Homo sapiens: one gene and its partner. The protein of the gene in region 2 purifies or fractionates together with the protein of the main gene of each other region. This does not show direct contact. Each region holds a gene or a part of one and is shown on either strand. Other genes may lie near its edges.

Region 1 (3,825 bases), on a different chromosome or scaffold from region 2:
AAAGAACTAATAAGCATAAACAAACATACTACCTCACCAATGCTTAAAAGCTGACAATGCTTATGAAGGAACAGGTATAAACAGTAGGCCTGCCTCGGAATTCTACAATCCTTCCCTCTTCTAACTCAGAGCGGAGAGGGCACACATTTCTAGTCACTGATGAAGCAGTAGTAATAGGTTTGAGCATATTTCCTTTCTCAGTAATAACAATCAGCATTTTAAAATCATCTACTAGGGGCTAGGCGTGGTAGCTCATGCCTGTAATCTCAGCACTTTGGAAGGCTGAGGTGGGTGGATTGCTTGAGCTCAGGAGTTCAAAACCAGCCTGGGCAACATGGTGAAACCCTGTCTCTACTAAAAATACAAAAAATTAGCTGGGTGTGGTGGCGCATGCCTGTGGTCCCAGCGACTTGGGAGGCTGAGGTGGGAGGATCGCTGGAGCCCAGGAAGTTGAGGCTGCAGTGAGCCGTGATTACACCACTGCACTCCAGCCTGGGTGACAAAGCGAGACCATGTCTCAAAAAAAACTTAAAAAGTAAAAATAGGTGACAATATACTAGATGGTAGACATTGTGCTAAGGAATTTACCACTCTTTTGAATTGTTATTCTCTTTAATTTATTACCATCTTTAATCTTTATACCAACTGTAATGGCTAATACTGAGTGTCAACTTGATTTGATTAAAGGATACAAAGTATTGATTCCGGGTGTGTCTGTGAGCATGTTGCCAAAGGAGATTAACATTTGAGTCAGTGGGCTGGGAAAGGCAGACCCACCCTGAATCTGGGTGGGCACAACCAAATCTGCTGCCAGTGCAGTTAGAATATAAGCAGGCAGAAAATGCGAAAAAGAGAGACTGGCCTGGCCTCCCAGCCTATATCTTTTTTTTTTTTTTTGAGACAGAGTATTGCTGTCGCCAGGCTGGAGTGCAGTGGCACAATCTCGGCTCACTGTAACCTCCACCTCTTGGGTTCGAGTGATTCCCCTGCCTCAGCCTTCCGAGTAGCTGGGACTACAGACGCATGCCACCACGCCCGGCTGGTTTTTTGTATTTTTAGTAGAGACGGGGTTTCACTGTGTTGGCCAGGATGATCTCGATCTCCTGACCATGATCCGCCTGCCTCGGCCTCCCAAAGTGCTGGGATTACAGGTGTGAGCCACCACGCCCAGCCCCAGCCTATATCTTTCTCTTGAGCTGGATGCTTCCTGCCTTCAAACATCAGACTCCAAGTTCTTCAGTTTTGAAACTCCTTGCTCCTCAGCCTGCAGATGGCCTATTGTGGGGCCTTGTGATCATGTGAGTTAATACTTAATAAACTCCCATATATATATATATATATATATATATATATATATATATATATATATATATATTACACTAGTTCTGTCCTTCTAGAGAACCCTGACTAATACAACAACCTTGCAAAAAAGCTATTATTGGCCGGGTGCGGTGGCTCATGCCTGTAATCCCAGCACTTTGGGAGGTCAAGTCACGTGGGCGGATCACCTGAGGTCAGGAGTTCGACACCAGCCTGGCCAATGTGGTGAAACCCCATCTCTATTAAAAATACAAAAATTAGTTGGGTGTGATGGCGGGCAGCTGTAATCCCAGCTACTCGGGAGGTTGAGGCAGGAGAATCACTTGAACCCGGGAAGTGGAGGTTGCAGCAAGCCACGATTGCACCACTGCACTCCAGCCTGGGTGACAAGAGCAAAACTCCGTCTCAAAAAAAAAAAAAAAAGCTATTATTTTCCTCATTTTATAATGAAGAAACTGAGATAGTCTTTCCTATTGCTGCTTCTCCTTAAGAAGTATCAAATCAGAGTTAGAAAACTCTAATAATCTAATTCTAGAAATTAGCCAGTCAGCAGGAGGAATACGCTGCCTCAGTTAAAGGAAAGTTTAGGGGCAGGTTTTCTTTTTGACAGCCTTAAAAATACAAAAGTCACACTATGTATAATGCCAACTCTATTGAGATGCTGGTTCTTTTAGGAAAAATAAATGTTAAACTGGCAAGACAATACAAGAAATTATCCTCACCTATCAACCTCCACATTTCCTTTTAACATTTCATTAAACATTTTGTTGAATACAAATTGTTTGCTGAATGATAGCTTAGAGCAGAATTACTACTTCTTTAACCTTTGTTTATTAACCCCTTTGATAGTCTGAGGAAGCTCAGGATCTCTTTTGTGAGACATATTTAAAAATGCATAAAATGGAATATGTAGGATTCCAAAGGAAGCCAGTTATAGTGAAATATAATTACCAAAATAGATTTTAGAATGTCCCTACAAAATCCTGGTGAAAGAAATCAAAGAGGAGCTAATAAATAGAGAGATATAACATGTTCATGGATAGGAAGACTTTATTTTGTTAACATATCAGTGCTTCCTGGCCAGGCGCCATGGCTCAAGCCTGTAATCCCAGCACTTTGGGAGGCCGAGGCAGGCAGATCATGAGGTCAGGAGATCACAACCATCCTGGCTAACACGGTGAAACCCCGTCTCTACTAAAAATACAAAAAGTTAGCTGGGCGTGGTGGCGGCCGCCTGTAGTCCCAGCTACTCGGGAGGCTGAGGCAGGAGAATGGCATGAACCCCAGGCGGAGCTTGCAGCAAGCCGAGATTGCGCCACTGCACTGCAGCCTGGGCGACAGAGCGAGACTCCGTCTCAAAAAAAAAAAGGTATCAGTGCTTCCCAACTTGAGCTACAGATTAAATACAGTCTTAATCAAAAGCCCAAAGTTATTTTTTGGATATCAACCAACTGATTTTAAAATTTACATGGAAATGCAGAAAAGACCAAGAACAGTCCAGAATACTAAAGAACAAAGTTGGAAGACTGATACTACCTGACTTCAACACTTACCGTAAAGCTACAATAATCAAAAAAGTATGGTATTAGAAAAAGAATAGACAAACAGATCAATGGAATGGAATAGTAAACCCAGAAATAGACCCTCACAAAGAGAGTCAACTGATCTTTGACAAAGGAGCAAAGGGGATTCAATGGAGAAAGGACAGTCTTTTCCAAAAATGGTACTGGAACAACTGGATATCCATTTGCAAAAATGAATAAATAAATAAATCTAGCCACATACTTTACACCTTTCACAAAATTTAGCTCTAAATGGATCACAGACCTAAATGTAAAATATAAAACCATAAAATTTCTAGAAAATAACAGAAGAAAATCCTTGTGACCTTAGATTAGGTGATGAGTTTTTAAATACAATACCAAAAGCACACTCCATGAAAGAAAAATTTGATGTTGGACTTCATTAAATTTAAAAACTTCTGCTCTACAAAAGATACCGTTAAAGAGAATGAAAAGATAAACCACAGACTTGGAGGAAATATTTGAGGTGGTTTTTTTTTTTTTGGAGGAAATATTTGTGAAACACACATCTGATAAAGCAGCAGTCCATAGCCTTTCTCGCACCAGGGACCAGTTTCATGGAAGACAATTTTTCCATGGACGGCGTTGTGGGGGTATGGTTCAGGATGATTCAAGTGCATTGTATTTATTGTGCACTTTATTTCTATTATTACATTATAATATATAACGACATAATTATACAACTCAACATAATGTAGAATCAGTGGGAGCCCTGAGCTTGTCTTCCTGCAACTAGACAGTACCATCTGGGGGTGATGGGAGACAGTGACAGATCATCAGGCATTAGATTCTCATAAGGAGTGTGCAGCCTAGATCCCTCACATGTGCAGTTCACAACAGGGTTCGTGCGCCGATGAGAATCTACGGCCACCACTGATCTGACAGGAGGTGGAGCTCAGGCAGTAATGCATAATGTAAATAC
Region 2 (3,825 bases):
TCTCCCATGCAATATGTGTCTACTTTAGTCTCTGTTCTGTTAGAGTTTTTTCCTTGATTTTATTCTTAAACCCAGTTTCCCAAGATTCTCCTTGGTGTGTATATAGCTTAGTGTTCAGCCAAACATTAATTAAACATTTGGCTCAAACACCTTGAGGCAGTAAGACTTTCTCTCTCTACTGATGGAACACTGTGTGTACAGGGGAGTGCGTTCAAAGTCCAGCTGTTGTATGTCTTCACTGGCTTTTACATTCTGCAAGGCCCTCTTGAACCTTCTTGCTTATCCACTGTGTATGTGCTGAGGATCCATTAGCCCAGAATGTTTGGGTGTCTTGGGTCTATCTTCCAAATCTTTGATGCATATCCTTGCAGCCTCTGGTCCACTTGGGATATGTAGAGAGCTTATAAAGCCCCCTGTGGCTGTGTCATCCCTGGGAAATTCCTGTTAAATCCCACCTAGTTTGCCAATCCATAGCTTGCCTCAAATAAAAGGCAACATAAGGCAAGCAGAGCCACCTTCTATCCATGTTTGCTTGCCACTGAGATCACCTTTTTAAACTGATAATGGCTCCAACTCAAGTAAGCCTCCTTTGGCCATGGCGGCAAGGCTGTTCATTTTCATGTTCTGCCCCAACCTACTTGAACTTCACTTACAACAGAACTGGAGTGGTGGAATGGGGGTTGTTCCAGGCAAGAACAACAAAAAGAAATTGTCCTTATCTGAAATTCAGCGATCTTCATGAATAAGCATTTCTCTGATTGTGGTATATGCCTTTAATTTTATTTCTAGAGTGACAAATTTTTGGTTTTGACAGTTTTTTTCTAGCTTTATAGTTTCTTCTTGGGGAGAGAATATGTCAACCTCACTCCATCATGCTGAAGTAAATCTTCATCTCTTAATTTTATCTCTCAAAAATATCCTAAGGATTCCCTCTGGAGCCTGATAAGTAATTGCAGTATCTGGTTTCTATGGTTGGATGATTCAGGATTCCAGGAATAATAGTTACTTTTTAGACCTCTAAAGAAGAAGTAACAACCACGTAAATGAAAAGATGCTTCTTAAATCATGGAGAATCAGGGCTTAGTATCACTGTATTTTCAAACTGTTTCAGCCTTACTTTATAACTGATTTAGTATATTTTTCTTTTAATTTCAGACTTCAGTGAAGTTCCTTATGACTTCCCCTGAAATTGCTTCCTTATCATGGGGGCAAATGAAAGTAAAAGGCTCTAATACAACCTATAAGGACTGCAAAGTATGGCCAGGGGGTAGTCGGACTTGGGATTGGAGAGAAACAGGAACTGAGGTAAGATATTAGTCTTTGGTTGATACTACATGAGGCTGACCAAGTGATTTCCAACTTCCTAAGCTGCAATGACTAAGTGAAAAACTATTTCTCTTGTGTCTTTTTGAGATATAATTCATATACCATTAAATTCACCCTTTTAAAGTATGCAATTCAATGGACTTCTTACATTCAATGCCCCTGTAGTGACATTATAGTGACTTACATTCATAAACTTGTACAACAGTTACCACTGTTAGTTCCAGAATATATTTATCACCTCAGAAAGGAACCACATAACCACTACCAGTCAGTGCCCATTTACTACCACTCCTAGCCCCTAGAAATGATTAATCTACTTTCTGTTGTTATAGATATGCCTATTCTGGATGTTTTCTATAAATTACATCATTCAGATATCTTAGGTGTGTTCCTAGGAGTGGATTTCTGGGTTATATAGTGTTTAACCTTTTGAGGTACTGCCAGACTATCTTCCAAGGCACCTGCACCATTTTACATCTCCACTAGGAATATAGGAAGGTTCCAGTTTTTCCACATCCTCCTCAACACATTGTTCTTTTCATTGTTTTGTTTTTATTAGAACCATCTTATTAGGTGTGAAGTGTTGTTCTCATTGCGGTTTTTATTTGCATTTCCCTGCATTTCCTCAAGTATTCTCAGTGTGCCATTCCCAAGGTAGAGCCTCCTTTCCATGAGTGTAAGTTGGGCAAAACAAGGGAGCCTCTACCTTTTGACCCCACTCACCTGGGATGTAGCCTCAACAACAGAAAGATGGGGGCAGGATGAGAGGCACTAAAGTCCTGCTCCTCCTGGGAAGGAAGCCTTCCAGCTAGATGCTGAGGGGAGAAAGAGTCTTGTGTTCTTGGCTATGGCAATCTGGAGAGTAGTCTCTGCCTCACGATGGGGATGGGGCAGGAAGGCATTTATCTTGACGCCTCCACTGTACATGTGCACAGATTCTTACCTGTCTTACCAAATATCTCAATGAGTTCTGGCTTCTATAAAAAAAATTGTCATAGACTGAGTGCCTTAAATAATAAATATTTATTTCTCACAGTTCTGGAGACTGAAAGTGTGAGATTAGGATGCCAGCATGGTTCTGGTCCTTGTATTAATTCATTTTCATTAGTTCATTTTCATGCTGCCGATAAAGACATAACTGAGACTGGGGAGAAAAAGAGGTTTAATGGACTTACAGTTCCACATGGCTGGGGAGGCCTCACAATCATGGCAGAAGGCAAGGAGGAGCAAGTCACGTCTTACATGGATGGTGGCAGGCAAAGAGAGCTTGTGCAGAGAAACTCTCGTTTTTAAAACCATCAGATCTCATGAGACTCATTCACTATCACGAGAGCAGCACAGGAAAGACCCACCCCCATAATTCAATCACCTCCCACCGAGTTCCTCTCACAATATGCAGGAATTGTGGGAGTTAAAAATCTAAGATGAGATTTGGGTGGGGACACAGCCAAACTGTATCAGCCCTCTTCTAGTTTGCAGACAGCCAACTTCTCTTTGTATCCTTACATAGTGGAAAGAGAGGTAGCTAGCTTTTGGGCTTCTTATAAGGGCACTAATCTCATTCATGAGGGCTCTACCCTTAGGACCCAGTTACCTCCTACAGGCCCCACCTCTAAATAACATCACATTGGGATTAGAGTTTCAATATATACATTTTTAAAGGACACACATATTAAGTCCATTGCAGCAAATTTTTTTTTACAGTTTTTTCTTTCTTTCTTTGTTTTTTTTTGGAGACAGTCTCCCTCTGTCGTCCAGGCTAGAGTGCAGTGGTGAGATCATGGCGCACTGTAGTCTACACCACCTGGGTGAAAGGGATCTTCCTCCCTCAGCCTCCTGAGTAGCAAGGACCACAGGCATGCAATCACACCTGGCTTATTTTTTTTAGTTTTTATAGAGATGAGGTCTCACTACATTGCCCAGGCTGGTCTTGAACTCCTGACCCCAAGAAATCCTCCCACCTTGGCCTCCCAAAATGCTGAGATTACAGGCATGAGCCATCATGCCCAGCCAGATTTTGTTGAATACACGTTTATTCATTGGGTATTTGCTCTTAGGACCATTTCCAGAGGCTTTAGGGATTTTGTTTTGTTGTTTTGTTGAGTTCTTGGTTTGGGTTTTTCTTTGTCGTTATTATTAATAATTTTTCACATAGGAGTGGGTCAGTGGAGCGCCTCATGATGTAATGATGGAAGTAGATCCTTCATTTTTGAAGAATAGTTTGTTGGATATAGATTTCTTTGATCAATCGTCTTTTTCTTTCAGCACTTTCAATATGCCATCCCACCACCTTTTGGCTTCATTGGTTTCTAATGATAAATCAACCATTAGCATTATTAGATCTCCCTTGGACTTGTTGAGTTGCTTCTCTCTAACTGCTTTCAAAACACATCACAGTAATTTAACTATGATATGTCTAGGTATGGATATCTTTGAGTTTGTCCTACTTGGAATTTATTGAGCTTCATGAAGATGTAGATTATTGTTTTTTTAATCAAA

The links.
Region 1: the proteins of AAMDC (region 2) and MANSC1 purify together in Homo sapiens (co-immunoprecipitation; one large-scale study listed by IntAct). This does not show direct contact.

What each region holds. Positions count from the first base shown.
Region 1 is NC_000012.12:12,343,594-12,347,418, forward strand, and holds part of MANSC1 (MANSC domain-containing protein 1 isoform 1 precursor), read right to left. Parts: intron 1-3,825.
Region 2 is NC_000011.10:77,841,324-77,845,148, forward strand, and holds part of AAMDC (mth938 domain-containing protein), read left to right. Parts: intron 1-1,155; coding exon of another isoform or gene 1,156-1,173; coding exon 1,174-1,305; intron 1,306-3,825. UniProt on the Homo sapiens protein: May play a role in preadipocyte differentiation and adipogenesis.